Linked DNA regions of Homo sapiens: region 2 is linked to region 1. Evidence: fine-mapped expression QTL. Tissue or cell type: fibroblasts. Region 1 holds a variant in brackets; the other region holds the start of a gene. All regions are shown on one strand. Distances are between the middles of the regions.

Evidence for each region. PIP is the estimated chance that this variant, and not a neighbour inherited with it, causes the effect.
Region 2: HOPX starts here. The variant in region 1 is fine-mapped to the expression of HOPX in fibroblasts (GTEx, PIP 0.99).

What each region holds. Positions count from the first base shown.
Region 1 is chr4:56,636,798-56,645,137 of GRCh38, forward strand. No RefSeq gene overlaps it. Among named protein-coding and RNA genes, the nearest start is that of HOPX, 40 kb to the right of the region's middle. RefSeq lists an enhancer at 3,954-5,153. The variant T/C (reference allele first, on the strand shown) is at 4,778.
Region 2 is chr4:56,678,150-56,686,489 of GRCh38, forward strand. HOPX (HOP homeobox) reads right to left here and starts at 3,147. Exons shown (of 4, transcript NM_032495.6): 1 at 3,106-3,147. It overlaps LOC105377666 (a long non-coding RNA gene), which reads left to right and starts at 5,084. Exons shown (of 3, transcript XR_941078.3): 1 at 5,084-5,241; 2 at 6,375-6,529. RefSeq lists a silencer at 3,145-3,194.

The sequences.
Region 1 (8,340 bases):
GTTTTTTAAATGGCATTACAAAGTTCAAGCTATTTTGGCATTTAGTAGATACTCGCTACAAGTTGGGAGAATTACGTTTATTTCATTTTTTAAAAGTGTCTTAAGTGCCTATTATGTGACAGACACTGTGCTAGGTAGGGCAAGAAAGCATGGTGAACAAGACAGAGATTTCTACTTTCAGTAAGTTTTTATTCTGAGGAACTGTATTCGTTAGAGTTGGATAACGACCATAACAAAAACACATAAATACTCAATTCTCAGTGGCTTAGCACAATAAAAAATGCATTCTTCACCAAGTTCATCTTAGAATAGTGTGGATTGCTGAGAAGACAGGTATTCTGTTCCATGCAGTCCTTCAGGATCCCAGCCTCCTTCCATATTTTTTTATGTCCACAAAGTCTTCTCCATTAAGCCAGCAGATTAAGAAAGAGAAAGCCAGGAGATTGCACAGGTAGTTTTTATGGCCAAGCTTGAAAGTGGTATACACTACTTTACTCACATTCCATTGACCAGACTCAGTCACATGGCCACACCTAACTGCAAAGGGGATTGAGAAAGGTAGCACACAAGAAAAGAAAACATGATTTGGTGAACATGTAACAGCCTGTACTGCAGGAAACAGAATAAATAAGTGGATATAATCCAGTGTGGTAACTGCTGTAACATGGGGAGGTAGAGTGCCTGATAACATAGAAGAAGGATACCCAACCCAGATGGGGTTTAGGCAGGGAGAATATCTGTACGAACTGATGTCTAAGCTGGAGCAGAAAAAAAAAGTCCATTTCTCTTTAGAATAGTGTAACTTGTTCACTAATGAGATACCCCTTGCATGAACAATTTGTTTAAATCCAAAAACACTTTTTTACAAGGTAACCATTAGAAAACAATAAGCCCTTTTAATGGGTTGCTCTGGTTCCCTGCTTTAAGAAATAGCATAATGTGGCATACACTATTGACTGTCCAATAGCCGTTCCTTCCTTCTTCCTTGATAAGAAAATGCCAGTTTTCTTCAGCCATTAGTCAACAATGTGTTCTAGGAAAATGGGCTCTAGGAAATGGGCTATAATTGGTCTAAGCCAACCATGGTAATCCAATCCACCTTTCATTCATTCAACAAATATTTAATAAGCTCCTGCTATGTGCCAGTCTGTTCCAAGTGCTGATTGTCTTTACCAATTATAGGCATGGAGTGGGCATGTGGCCCAACTCCAGACACTGAGAGGTAAGGGAAGACTGCTAAGGAGCTTCTGGGAAAAGGCTTTTCCTCTGTGATAAAATAAAATGAGAGATGCCTGAAAATAAAGCCAGGACCTTTCCTGTGTTTGGATGATGTCATGTAGGATGTGATGCTTGGAACTGGAGCAATCATCTTGGGACCATGAGGAGAAAGAGAAGAGAATCCCAGAAAGGATGATTGAGAGCTCTGGCCTAGTCAGGCTGTTGAATTAACTGAACCTGGAATGACCTACAGAAAAACAAAAAACCTGATATGCCACTTTCAGTTGAGTATTCAGTCACTTGTAGCAAAAAGTATCTTAACAAGTATGCATGATTTTGAATTTTGTTTTCATTGTTTGTTGTGGATTAGAATGGGTGAATTTTCTTTTTTTTTTCTTTCTTTCCTTCTTTCTTTCTTTCTTTCTTTCTTTCTTTCTTTCTTTCTCTTTTCTTTCTTTCTCTCTTTCTTGCTCTGTCTTTCTTTCTTTCCTTTGTTTTCTTTTTTTGAGGTGGGGTCTCACTCAGTCACCCAGGTTAGAGTGTAGTGGCACGAGCTCGACTCACTGCAACATCTGCCCCCTGGGCTCAAGTGATCTTCCCACCTTAGCCTCCCAAGTAGCTGAGACCACAGGTGTGCACTGCCACACCCAGCTAAATTTTTTTTTTTTTTGCATTTTTGGTAGAGATGGGGTTTCTCCCTGTTTCCCAGGCTGGTCTCCAACCCCTGAGCTCTGGATATCCATCTGCCTCAGCCTCCCAAAGTGCTGGGATTATAGGCATGAGCCACCATACCCAGCCTTGGTGAATATTTCAATAAATGGATGAAGAATCTGACTTTTTCATTTTCTTCCTAGCTGTGTTGTTGATCCTACAGGAATTTCTGTCCTAGGCATCTTTGTGGACAACAATCATATTCCATTATCTTGTTGGCGGCCCCTTTGGCCACTGCAGATTCCCTGTTGGAAGCTGATGTGTTTGGAGCAAAGTCGCATTCTCTATTCTGGATGAGGTTATCTTTCTCTAGGTCCCCTACCTGTGGCCCCTCAGGGAGGACTTCCAAATGAGGCTGTTTGTTTGTTTGCTTTTAATGTAGAAGAGGCGTCTCCTCATTTGAAGAGTCAGCTTTCTTTCTGTGAACCTCGTCAGCCTCCCTCTCTCCTCTCTCTCTTTCCTCCTCTTTTGTTTTTTTGTTTTTTTTCCCCCACCATGCAATGAGTTGGGCTGTGAGCTATACTTTGTGGCTGGTGAGATTTTTGGAGGCCTCCCCGAACCTTGTGTCCCCTCTCGAACCTCATCTTGAGTTGTAATCCCCAGGTGTTGAGGGAGGAATTAGGTGGGAAGTGATTGGACCATGGAATTGGTTTCCCCCATGCTGTTCTCATGATAGTGAGTGAGTTCTCATGAATCTGATGGTTTGGTAAGGCAGTTTTCCCTGCTCTTGCTAGCTCTGTCTTATCTGCCGCAATGTAAAGAACGTCTTTGCTTCCCCTTTGCCTTCCGCCATGACTGTAAGTTTCCTGAGGCCTCCTTAGCCATGTGGAATTGTGAGTCAATTAAACCTCTTTTCCTTATAAATTACCCAGTCTCAGGTAGTACCTTTGTAGCAGTGTGAGAATGGACTAATACACTTGTTCAAAACAGAAACCTGGCAAACTTCATGCCCTAATTTAGAACTTTCTGCCTGAACTCAGTGGAAGCCCAGCTGAGGAATTAATTGGTATGTCAATAATACTTGAACTGAATATTGAAAATATTTTGGAATAAGCTTTAATTTTGGAATAAGTAGGTCAAATAGCTTTTTACTGGAATGATTTGGCCTAGATTCACAGATATTTTGGATGCCACTGCTTCTCACTATCTTGATGATGACAACAAAGGGGATATCTTTTCTATGCACTGTGAGACTTGGGTGCTAGTGCATGTTCGCTCTGCTTATAATCTAAAAGATCATCCTTTGGGACTTACATGTCTTTCCATTTCTTATGTTATTGGCTGTTTTGACTAGTAGCTATCATTTGAGGAAGAAGGATTGGATAGGTCAGGATATTGACAGAAAATAGATGGCAGAGGTAATTGAAGGCAGTTTAATGAAGGAACTCTACAAAGGTATGAAGAATATTAAGGGACACCAACAAGGGATAGTGAAGCATTGGGGCTAACAACAGTTACCACCTCTAGGCTTGGGTCAAAGGGAGGGTCAAGGGGAAGAAGATGTTACCAAAAGCTGGAGAGACCTGTAGCTGTGTAGAGGGCCCTCCTGATAGAGGCCATTGTCTTGAGAAGAAGAACGTAGTCACTGCTAAACTGCAAGTCTAGAAGCCCAGAGCTGCAGCAGATTTGAGGGAGTTGGAAATAAACCACTGCTTTGAAAACACTAAGACTGGAGGTTTTTTGTTAGTGCAGTTAAACCTAGTATTTCCTGAATAATGCAGAGACTCAGGCTCTTTCTGCATGGTTGTCCTCCAACCCTAAGGTGTTGCTGTCACCCATGCAGCTTCGACAGTAAGATGGCTCATTACTATGCTTGCATTCTAGGAAGTGGGAAGGAGAAACAAGAAAGCATACTTATTCCTTTTAGAGGCATGACCCTGAAGTGCACATATTACTTTCTTGGCCACACGTAATGTTCTAGTTATCTATTGCTGCATAACGAATTATCCCAAAGCTTAGCAGATTAAAACAACAAACATTTATGATATCAAATAATTTCAGGAGCAGCTTAGCTGAGTGGTAGTGGCTAAGGCGCTGCAGTTATCTGAAGGCTCAACAGGGTCTGGAGGATGTACTTCTAAGCTTACTTACTTGGTTGTTGGCAGAGCTCACCTCCTCACTGGCTGTTGTCAGGAGGCCTCTGTTCTTTGCCACATGAGCTTCTCAACATGTAGAGCTGCTCAACATGCTTCTCCCAGAGCAAGTAATCCCAGGGGGAAGAGAGAGAGAGAGAGAGAGAGAGAGAGAGATAGAGAGAAAGCTTAGTGTCCTTTAGAACCTAATCTCAGAAGTGACCTAGAAGTATTTCTGCTTAATTGTGTTAGTCAATTCTGTGGCACAATGTACCAATTCTGTGGCACAATGTGGGCAGGGACTATGCAGAGGTGTGAATACCAGGAGGCAGAGATTGTTGGAGGCATCTTGGGGGCTGGCTAAAAACCTGACTATAAAGTAAGTGAGAAAACGTAGACTTTAGACACGCAGCCATCTCCCAGATAAAACTACTGAAAGAAGGGAAAAAGAGCTAGGGGACAATCAGAATTCTCTCCCTTAACCTGCCCTTCTAGCTACATAAATACACATATGTAGTCTCCTTTTCATACATGAATACATGAAATGAAACTATTTCTCTAGATTACAGTTCCTGTGCCCCTGAGGATTCTTCCTCTTAGGGTCACTATCCCAGGACACTTGACTTCTTCACTCCCAGAGAATGCCAAGTTTCTATCTAAAGAGCTTTTTTTTTTTTTTTTTTTTTTTTTTTTTTTACAGGAGTGGGAAGAGAGAGCTTCTATCTGGAAGAAGAAAGAAAGAAGAAAGAAACGCCTTCTGCATTACTAATCTGGAA[T/C]GCTAGGGCTGATTCATATGAACCATGAGTCAGTTTGTCATTGCATTTAGTAGTTGGATGAGTTATATAAGTTGAGATTCAAATAAACGTTTCTTATGTTTTTCTAAGTTTAGTTGGCAGACTCTTCTAAGAAGCCACATTGATATTTGTTTACAGGAGCACATTCCTCATGCAGCAGCACTCACTATCTGTAATGATACAATTGTCTTGGTGAAGGTAAAGGAGAGGGTCTCTAGGAACCTTTGCTCCTCTGTTTCTATAATTGTTTCTATAGAGCTCACCAGGCTCATAATGCCAGGTTTCATAAAACCAAAAATCTTATCTCCTGCCTTGCCAATATAAGCTGTGGCTGATGTCCCGGATCCTTGCCTGACTTGTGTCCACTTCACTACCTCTTAGCACGTCCATCATGGGAAAAGAATGTGAAATTTCAAATTATTTGTATTATTACCACAATTGTTATTAGTCACTCTGACATTGAGTTGAGACAAGGATACATTTGAACAGTTGATATGAGGTTTTTTTTTTTTTTTTTTTTTTTTTTTGAGACGGAGTCTCGCTCTGTGGCCCAGGCTGGAGTGCAGTGGCGCAATCTCGGCTCACTGCAAGCTCCGCCTTCCGGGTTCACGCCATTCTCCTGCCTTAGCCTCCCGAGTAGCTGGGACTACAGGCGCCCACCATCACGCCTGGCTATTTTTTTTTGTATTTTTAGTAGAGACGGGGTTTCACCGTGTTAGCCAGGATGGTCTCGATCTCCTGACCTCGTGATCCGCCCGCCTTGGCCTCCCAATATGAGGTTTTTAAAGGACCTTTCAGTGGACAATAGAAGATGTGGAACAAAGTTTACACATGAGGACCAGAGTTGAGAGAGAGTAGCAAAAAGTCTCCAAGAAGGTAACAGGCCAGGTGCAGTGGCTCACACCTGTAATCCCAGCACACTGGGAGATGAGGCAGAAAGATTACTTGAGCCCAGAAGTTCGTGACCAGCTTGGGCTGTCAAGAAAGAAAAAAAATAGCCACGTGTGGTGGCAGGTGCCTGTAATCCCAGCTACTCTGAAGGCTAAGGCAGGAGGATCCCTTGATCCAGGGAGATCAAGGCTGCAGTGAGCTATGATTGCACCACCATATTCTATGTAGCCTGGGTGACAAAGCAAGATTATGTCTCTATTTGTTTTTTAATTTTAAATTTTGAAATAGAGATGAGGTCTCACTATTGCCCAGGCTGGTCTCAAAGTCCTGGGCTCAAGCGATCTGCCCACCTCAGCCTCCCACAGTTCTGGGATTACAGGTGTGAACCACCATGCCCAGCTGAGACCTTTTCTCTTAAAAAAAAAAAAAAAAAGAGGGTAACTTATCTGCCATACATTTGTATATAGTTTTAAAAATTATGTAACCCCTTGAGGTCCATAAATTCTCCACTTGTCAGGGGTTATCTTTTCTTTTAGTATGTAAAAATAATTTTTCTCAAGTTCCCATTGGCTGAGAAAAATCTAGTGCTACTTCTGGTTACCTCTTACTATGAATCTCTGGTTCCCCTATATTCTTAATTACACTAGGGGCTGAGATTCCTCCCTCCATGCACTTCTCTCTTCCTTTATTTGCTCTCCCATTAGTAAGGGCTCTTTTTTATTACAAATGACAGATACACTGAGAAAGGGATTCACTAGTTCACAGAGCCAGGAAGGCTGGGGTAGCCCAGGGAAGAGTGGGAACCAAGGCCTCAGGACTTTCTCATTCCCATCTGCCTGGCTTCATTCCCTCCCTTTACAGAATGGCTTTCTCCATGAGTCCGAGTCAAAGGCTACCTGCAGCCCCAGCCCTCCATCTTCACAACTCTCCATGAAAGGTGACAATGTAGAACCATCTCTCCAGGTCCAATTGCAACAATTCTGGCAAAGGACTTTGGCCCAGCCTAGGCAACATAGTGAGATCCCATCTCAAGAAAAAAAAAAAATTAGCCAGGTATGGTGGTGCATGCCTGTAGCCCAAGCTACTAGAGAAGTTAAGGTAGGAGGATCCCTTGAACCTGGGAGGTCGAGAGCCCATACTTGGTTCAGTTCATGTATGCCAAGGGTTATGACGCTGTCATTGGCCAGCCTGGGTCTAACTGTCATGGGGGGAGAAATCTGGGGAACTGTGATTAACGGCTCTATCAGGACCACATGAAGTAGAAGTAGTTCCCCAAATGTGAAGGTGCTATTACCAGAAAAGAGGCAGACAGAAGCCAGCACTTTCACTGTCTACGGCCTCCTGCAAGCGCGGCTCAAGCAGATCCTTCCCCAATCCCTAAAGCATCACCAGTACAAGGCCATTTTGTGAGACAGAGCTGTTGGGAAGGTTGAAGACAGCAAAAAACAATTACAGCATAGTGACAGCAAGCCCAGCACTGTATAGATAGTCATTGAAAATAGAACATTTGATATTTTAAAGTTCCTAAGCCCAGTCCACCAGCCTCTCACTGGTGCCTTCTGGGTCAGCTGACATTGTGCCTGCCGTCCCTTACCAAATCGTTCTCCTCCACCTCTCCATTCTCCAAGTGCCCATGGATCCTAAACGTCATCCTACCTGAATCTCCGTGGGACAAATGGTATTTTATTGTGCACAGCCACTGAGTTCTTTTTTCCTCGTCTTCTAGACCTATATTTCACAGCCCCCAAAACTATTAAGATGTTTTCCTAGGCCGGGTGTGGTGGCTTATGCCTATAATCCCAGCACTTTGGGAGACTGAGGCGGGCAGGCCACCTGAGGTCAGGAGTTCCAGATCAGCCTGGCCAACATGGTAAACGCCTGTCTCTATTAAAAATACAAAAATTGGCTGGGTGTGGTGGCATGCGCCTATAATCCCAGCTACTGGGGAGGCTGAGGCAGGAGAATCGCATGAACTCGGGAGGCAAAGGTTGCAGTGAGCCGAGATTTGAGCCATTGCACTCCAGTCTGGGCAATAAGAGCAAAACTTCATCTCAAATAAAAAAAAAAAATATGTTTTCCTGAACAAGACAGCCAATTTTTTCCTTAGGAAGCATCCTTCCATCCTCTCAGAACAATGGTTCAATCTGCTGCTAGCTTCTGAATTAAGTTCTTCTCCCTGTTGCATGTGTATTTATGCATAGAAAACATGCCTTCCCCCAATATGATATAGCATAATATTAAGGTTAGTAAGACGTTACCTCTGTGTGGTGGGATCATGGGTAATTTTTTACAGTGTTTTAAACATTTATTAGTTTCATTAGGCAGGGGTTTCCCTCTCCCTAATTTTTGGAGCCCGATCATGTGTAATTTTTATGAGTTTTGTTGGTTTTATCATTTCTTTCTTTTCTTTTTTTGCTTATTTCTATTTCTACAATGAACAACTGAAAATGGTACAAGGCAAGAAAGGAGTGAAGAACAGAACCTGCTGCTTAAGTCCCTTTTATCAAGAAATGCAAAAGCCTTCCCCAAAGGCTTTTTGACCTCCCGCCTTTGACCTGATCCTTGTTGGATAGACTGTGTCATGTGACCACACAGCCTCAAGGGAGAATGGAAAAGAGAGGATTTAATGTTTCCAGCCCTTACAGTCTCATGAA
Region 2 (8,340 bases), 41 kb after region 1:
GAGTGTCCAGAAGCAGCCTCTTTCTTTACCTTTGAGCCTCTGTTGCTGTGTTCCCTGAGCCTCCCAAGCCTCATCCTACTCTCGGACTTGGTGGTCAGGTGGCATGGGGCCATCCCCATCCTCTCTTTGGCCCTTACTGTCCTTATCTGTCAAGTGAATGGTTTTGATTTCACTGGTTTTCATCCCTAGCTGCACATTAGACTCACCTGGGGAACTTTAAAAACCAATCCCAGGGCTGCACACCTGGGGATTCTGATTTAATTGGTCCAGGGTGGGGCCTAGTCACTGATTTTTTTTTTTTTTTTTTTTTTTTTGAGACGGAGTCTTGCTCTGCCACCCAGGCAGGAGTGCAGTGGCACGATCTCCGCTCACTGCAACCTCTGCCTCCCAGATTCAAGCGATTTTCCTGCCTCAGCCTCCCAAGTAGCTGGGATTACAGGCGCTCACCACAATGCCCAGAATAATTTTTGTATTTTAGTAAAGATGAGGTTTCACCATGTTGGTCAAGCTGGTCTCGAACTCCTGACCTTAGGTGATCCACCCGCCTCAGCCTCTCAAAGTGCTGGGGTTACAGGCATGAGCCACCATGCCCTGCCCCAGTCACTGATTTTTTTTTTCTTTTTTAAGTTCTCCAGGCCCCACAACCACTAGGTTAGATTATCTCCAGGGACCCTCCCAGTTCTATAAAAGTCTATGATCCTTACTGTCTGGTCTCTGTGCTTTACTGAATTTATTTTTTTCTCCATAAATACTCATCTTTTATGTTCAGCATGTTACATAGGCTGATTTTTAGAAATGCTTTTACTTATTTAAAAATTATATTGTTGGTTAGGCACAGTGGCTCACACCTGTAATCCCAGCACTTTGGGAGGCCAAGGCAGGCAGATCGCTTGAGCTCAGGAGTTTGGGACTAGCCTGGGCAACATAGCAAAACCCCATCTCTACAGCTGGGTGTGGTGGCACAAGTCTGTGTTCCCAGCTACTTGGGAGGCTGAGGTGGGAGGATTGCTTGAGCCTGGGAGGCAGAGGCTGCAGTGAGCCGAGATCGTGCTACTGCACTCCAGCCTGGGTGACAGAGTGAGATCCTATCTCAAAAAAATAAAAATAAAAATAATGTGGTTAAAGTATTGTTTGTTGGGAGTAATCAGCTATAATACTGAATGTTTAAAGTACACAATTTGATAAATCTTCCCATATAAGAAATGGTCACAGTCACAATAATGAACATATCCATCACCCTCAAAAGTTTCCTGTGTACCTTGGGAGTCCCCCCAAACATTTTTTCTCCTGCCCCTACCTTCCCAAGTAACCATGGATCTTCTTTCTTTCTTTTTTTTTTTTTTCTTAAGACAGAATCTTGCTCTGTCGCCCAGGCTGGAGCGCAGTGGTACAATCTCAGCTCACTGCAACCTCCGCCTCCCGGGTTCAAGCAATTATCCTGTCTCAGCCTCCCGAGTAGCTGGGATTACAGGTGCCCACCACCAAGCCCGCCTAATTTTTGTATTTTTAGTAGAGACGGGGTTTCACTATATTGGCCAGGCTGGTCTCAAACTCCTGACCTCAAGTGATCCGCTCACCTCGGCCTCCCAAAGTGCTGGGATTACAGGCGTGGGCCACCGCACCCAGCCACTTTCTTTTTGCTATAGATTAGTTTGCATTTTCTATCATTTTATACAAATGTAATCACTCAACACATCCTATTTTGTGCATGGACATAACATCTAATTATCTCCCTGGACTTTAGATTTCAAGCTCTTTGAGAACAAGATCCATTTTTTCTTTTCTCTTCCTCTTGGCCTTCAACTTATCTTTTCTCAGATATAGCCCTTAATCATTATTTGCTTGATTGACATAAGACCTTCATGAACTTAAAACCAAGCTTCAGTTTGGTGGCTAAGAAGTGCCTGCCACGTTGAAGGTTTTTAACTCGCCACCACTTCTGGAGAGGTTCCTCAGTCGGCAGCTTCAGCCCAGTTAAAAAAAAATAATAATAAGCATATGAGCTTCATTTAGGTCCGTGGACTTCTAGGAGTCCAGAAAGTGAGAGTCAAGGTGTGGGTTGGGGTGTGGGGTGGAAGGGGAGGCTCAGGAAGCGAGGAATGAATACCTGAGAAAGGTCCTTGGCTTTCACCAGATTCTTGATACAAAGGGATAGACTATGGAATTAATGCCCTGCTCTATTCCTATCTGCTTTTCATGAATCTGTTGTTTAATTATAAATCCTTTACTATCTGCTCCTCCCTTCTCCTCCCTTCCCACCTCCCCAGCACCTTCGTTTTGTTCTCTGCCTGCCCTGGTTATACTTAACCTTACTTAACTAAACACACTACAGGGCCCTGTCCAGTAGCAGTGCCACTTCATGGGAACTGTTTGCATTCCTTTTCTCTTTAAGAGCTTCTTATCTGAACTATGTGATAGATTGTACCTTTTTATTCAATGATTCTTATTCCACTTTACTTAACAGTTTACCCTGAATACTTGGATGCCACTCACATATCACAAACCTATACTTTCTCTAAACCCCAGAGCCTGGGATTCCTTTTCATCTCAAAAAAAAAAAATCACTGTTTTTGTTGTTATAAATAAGTATTATGAGAACCAGAAGTAACAATAAACTGCAAATTCAAAATCAAGCCACTTCTCCATCCAGAGACAGCTCCCTCACTTCCCCTTGTCAAACACAAAACATATTTTAAAACGATATTATGTCTGATTTTAGATAAAAGTCTGGGATGTAGAATAACAATAATCTGCTTCTAAATGAGAAAATCATAGGCATCTGACAAATGCTGGTTTCAAAGTTATCTTTCCAAAATAGAAGCGAGTAAGAAAAACATCTCACCTGCTTGGCCAAAAGACCAACACCAACTCCCCTTCCTCCAAATTCCCCTCGACCCCATGCAGTTTTGTTTGTAAGGGACTGATGTCTTACACCCAGCAGCATTTCCTAGCTTCTGCTTGGGGGTAAGCTTGTCATTCCTATTCTCCCTTTCACCTCTACCGTTTTCCAACAGATGAGCAAATACGGTAACGATAGCATTTTGGTCTAGTTCCTGCACAAACTCATTCCTCTGCATAAAAGGCAGACCTTTGAAAGGTACTTACGTGGAAGAGGCAAAGGCAAGCGCAAGCCCTGGGTTTGGAAGCTGTGTTTGCTGATGCCAGCCTGCTTAAATAGCTGGGCTGGCTGACGCAGGCTGCTGATAGCACGTTTATTTACGCCTATGAGCACACACTCGAGCAAGGACCTGAAAAACCTGCAGCGTGGGCAGGAGGTAAACCACTGAAAGTATGCCGAGGTTACGTCTCTCCTGGTTATTCAGGTTTGATGTTCAGGCTGGGACTTCTGAGAGTCTCATGGAACTTTCTCGTCACTATCTTCTCGTCCCTGACCTCTCTCCTAGCCAAGCAAGCTTCTTCACCAAGATAGGATAAGAGAGATGTGGCTGAGAGAAGACGGGGAAGAGAAAAGGGACCCTGAGTCTTCTCATCCACTTCCTTACTTTGAGCGAGTTTCCAGTTAGATGTTGCCTCATTTCAAAGCGTAGATCTGGTGCGGTTGATTTCACAGCTCTGAGAGCTGGATGCCAAGCTAAGAGCCTGGACAATTGCCCAATTAATGAAAGGTTGTTTTCTTTTGGGCACAGAATGTACACATAAAGAACAGTTAAAAGGGAGAGATTCGGGCTAGGATGATACAGTTTTAGGTCTCCCTCAAAAACGATTCTCATTTATTTCCCCTGCATCTGTACTTTCCTCTTACCATCCCCTCCCCTTCGTTAATGAAATTCCTGTCTAAGAGGTGAAAGATTCCCCATGGGCTTGCGAATAAAAAGCCAGTGTGTGAGCAAGTCTGTGGGAAGATGCATGCAGAGTGTGACAGAGAGTTTAGGGGCTCGTGTGACAATCCGTGGAAATGTTTCTAAAGGCGAGGGTATGTGTGTGGGTGTGAGGACCCGGCTGTTGGATGTTTACGTATTTTATTAGCTAGATACGGGAGCTAATACTCAATTGCAGTGCACTAAACATTATTAGGTGGGTATGATTTTGAGGGAATGAGGGAAGGGAGACAAGGTCTGGTGAGATCATCTGTGGGATTATCTGTGTGTATTTGCTGGTTTGTAGCACAAACCGGTAAGTGCCATCCAGAGAGCCACACCCTATATTATTCACTTCAGCAGAGAAAGAGAAAGCCCACTTGAGTCTCTTGGGAACAGTAGCCATATGTGAAAGAAGAGCAGCGCTCATTCAGAATACCTCTTTCCCTCTTGGAAAAGGGGGTGACGGTTATAAAACATGTGTGGGAAAGAGTAGAGACAGGGGGCCCAGGTTAACCCAACCTTGGTTACCAGAGGAATTCTTTTGTTTCCTGCCTAATTCAATGCCTAACTTCTGACCATTCTATGGCCAAATCTGGATTCTTGCTGCCACGATTTTTTGAATGGGCAGGGTCTATGTCTTGTTTATCATTTGATACCCACAGCATTATTATTATTATTGTTGTTGCACAAATTATTACTATGACAGCACAAATTATTATGATGATGACAATGGTGATGATCCATAATCTAGTAAGACTGACTGTGTGTCAGGCTCCATGTAAGGACTGTACAGAGAGTTTGTCTGCTTATTTAATATGTAATACAATAACCCTATGAGGTTGTATTGTTTTTTGTTTTTCACTCAGGCTGGAGTGCAGTGACACGATCTTGGCTCACTGCAGCCTTGACCTCCCGGGCTGAGGTGATTCTCCCACCTCAGCCTCCCAAGTAGCTGGGACCACAGGCACACACCACCAGAAGTGGCTAATTTTTTGTAAAGACAGTATTACACCATGTTGCCCAGGCTGGTCTCAAACTCCTGGGCTCAAGGGATCCTCCTGCCTCAGCCTCCCAAAGTGCTGGGATTACAGCCGTGAGCCACCATGCCCGGCTGAGTTAGTTTTTTTTATTATCGTTATTTTACAGAAGAGGAAACTGATACTCAGAAAGACTAAATAACTTTCCCAAGGTCACAGTGAATGGTGGGGGTGGAATTTGAATCCAGTTCTATCTGATTCCAGAGTCAGGGTTTCACTCAGGACTGGCTTGAACCAATACTTAGAAAGTTGCCTAAGAGTGTTTTCACCTATCCTTAATTGTGTTTTTGTTTATCATCTGTCTTCCAGAATGTGATTTCCATGACAACAATGACCTTTCTGCATTGTTTACTCCTGTGATCCAGAACAGTGCCTGGCACTTGGTAGGTGCTCAATAAATATGTGCCATCTGTTCAGTTTCTAAATTCCCGTGGAGGCAGTACAGCCCAACAGATAGAGGTCCTGGCATCAACAGAGTCTCATCCTGGTTCAGATGAGACATTTCTTTTTCTCTTGCATAATGTGTCAACTTCAAGCTGTTTCTCTTTATCCGGTGTATCATGGAGATTAAAGAAAAAGTGATTGAAACCATGAAGCAGTTTTTACATCACTTGACTCTGCAGGTAGCAGGTATATGGTTCCGGTTGATTGGGGGTGCAGTGATGAAACCAAGACCTCTAGCTTTTTCCATCTTTCATTTTGTAGCTCTCAGTGTGACAGCATTGTCTCTCCTCATGGTGGTAAGATGGCTACAGTAGCTCCATTCATCATATCTTTAAACAAAATATCCAAAGACAGGTAAAAAGTGTCCCAGGCTTTCTTTCTCCTAAGTGTCTTTCCTTGTTAGAGAGGAAAACCTTTTCAGAAATCACTAGGAGTCTTTCACTTATGTCTCCTTGCTGAGCACTGGGTTGTGTCAGCCAACACATTGGCTAAATCCATCATTTTCAAAGAGGAAAGGGATCAGGCTGATCATGGTTCCTCTCCTGGGTCTAAGGGAAGAATCCACCTTCTCCAGACAAATTGCTCTGATCATCTGAACAAAATCAAGATTCATTTATTAGTGAAGAAGCAGAAATGTGCTACCCACAGTTTTGCCAATCTAAGAGATCCTTTAAAATACAATAACCTAAACTTCTTTCATGCTTGGGCACCAGTCCAGCCATGGCAATTGGGTTTTACTATATCAGTTCTCTCTTTCTATGCTTTTTTTTTTTTTTTTCCCAGTGAGATAAGTTTGCTTTGGCTCTCAGTAAAATTAAGAGTATTTCAACAGCCTGCAAATAAGGGAGGTAGCTGGCCACTAATTTTTTTCCTGCAGGTTTAGATCCTAGGTCTTTATATCACCACCGATTTCCAGGGACTATCACACAATCTGTCAGCCTCTTGTCTTCTCCTGTGCCAGATGGGATTGGATGATGCTGTTGATTTCTTAGAGAAGTTGGGTCCAATAACACAACTAATTATAAAAACATGACTCATTTTCCTGCTCCTCCTGTTGTCTATTATATTTCAGTGGAATTCCAGGATCCCACATGTTTGCCTCTGCCTCTGCCTGAGAGCTCCAGCTAGTGCCTGGGTTATGTAAACTAGAGACATATGGCTGAGATGGTAATTCTCACATAGTTCTTTTTCCCCTGGTGATTAACAAACTTCAAATTACCACCCACAGTAAGTGTTATTTTTCTTCTATTTGCTGTTCTAAACCTTTTCCTTGCCACAGGTTTTGGGAACTCTTTTCTTCAATGGCTCAAATCAAGAGAATTAGGAGGAAGAATGGGGTCGTGGGATGTTCCTCCGCAAGAGAGGAACAATGCCTGGGGGAGGAAAGGGCTTCAGTAAGTGTTTACTGTGACTGGACAAATGGTGGAAAGGAAAGAGTGTGGGCTTCTCAATCCTGCAGACTTGCATGAGGTCCCACTACTTCTGCTTACCACCAATTTGATCAAGGGTAACTTATATAACTTCTCTCTGTTTCCTCATCTGTAATATGGGACTGATGAGAATTATCTCACAAGTTCGTTGTAAGGACTAAAGATATGTAAAGCACTTACATAATACCCAGAACATAGTAGGCGCTCCATAAATGGGTAGCTACTGCTAATAGTTACAAGAAGAAGCTGGATTTTCCTATCCTTGGTCATCTTTGTGGAACCCACACAAAATATGAATAGGGAGCATGCGGACCTGAGAAATTATGCAAAGAGAGAAAAGCCATTTCTTGGGGAACACAAAACTACCAAGGACATTTCAGTAAATTCACAGTGAAGATTCTAAGCCTCCCAAGGGCCCAAATCTGACCTATACAGAAACAAATGAGGAAGAGGGTAGCCAGAGGATAGAGGCGAGCTTGCTGAGAATTCTGCCCCCAAGGTGTGAACTTGCAAGCAGAGAGGCCGAGAATTTTGCAGATGCTGTGGCAGTTCGAACTCCCAGAGAGCCCTTCCTGGCCCAACCTGGCTGGCACGTAGAACAGTGTGGGAAGCAGAAGAGGATCAGCCAATGGCAGAGAACCTGGACAAAGAAAAGGATGCCAACCGACTGAGGATAGAGACATTTCCCTTGGCTCCTCCTGGCAAAGGACTTCTCAGGTTTCCTGCTGAGAAGGGAGTGGAAGCTATGACATAATCACACTCTGTATTCTTTGTAGTTTGTTGTAGGCATGGTAATTATTAAGTCATCCTTTCGGTTCACTGTATATACTAGATTCTTTTTTTGAGACAGAGACTCGCTCTGTCACCCAGGCTGGAGTGCAGTGGTGCGATCTGGGCTCACTGCAACCTCCACCAGCATGTCCAGCTAAAATAGTTTTCTATATATATATACATATATATATACACACACACTCACACACACATATATGTTATATATAATGTATTATATATAATGTATTATATTGTATTATATATAATGTATTATAATGTATTATATATAATGTATTATATATTATATGATGTATTATATATTATATAATATATTATTTGTATTATATATTATATAATATATTATTTGTATTATATATTATATCAATATATTATATATTACTATATATTAATGTTAATATATATTAATATTAATATATTAATATATAATATAATAATATAATATATAATATATAATATAATATATAACATATAATATAATATATAATATAATATATATATAGTATTTTTAATGGGAACAAGGTTTCATTATGTTGGTCAGGCTGGCCTTGAACCCCTGGCCTTAAATGATCCGCCCCCCTTGGCCTCCCAAAGTGCTGGGATTACAGGCATGAGCCACTGCACCTGGCCTACTGTATATACTAGATTCTAGGTGTGGATTCTACCATCTTTCTAATTCATTTGTGGTCCTATGGAGTGTTAGGTGAGTTGATGACCGCGAGTTAGATGTTGCATCCCATCAACAGCGTCTGTGCCTGGGTAGGGTTGTCACATCTGGTGTGGCCCCTGTTGCGTTTGTTCTTCTACTTAAGAAACACA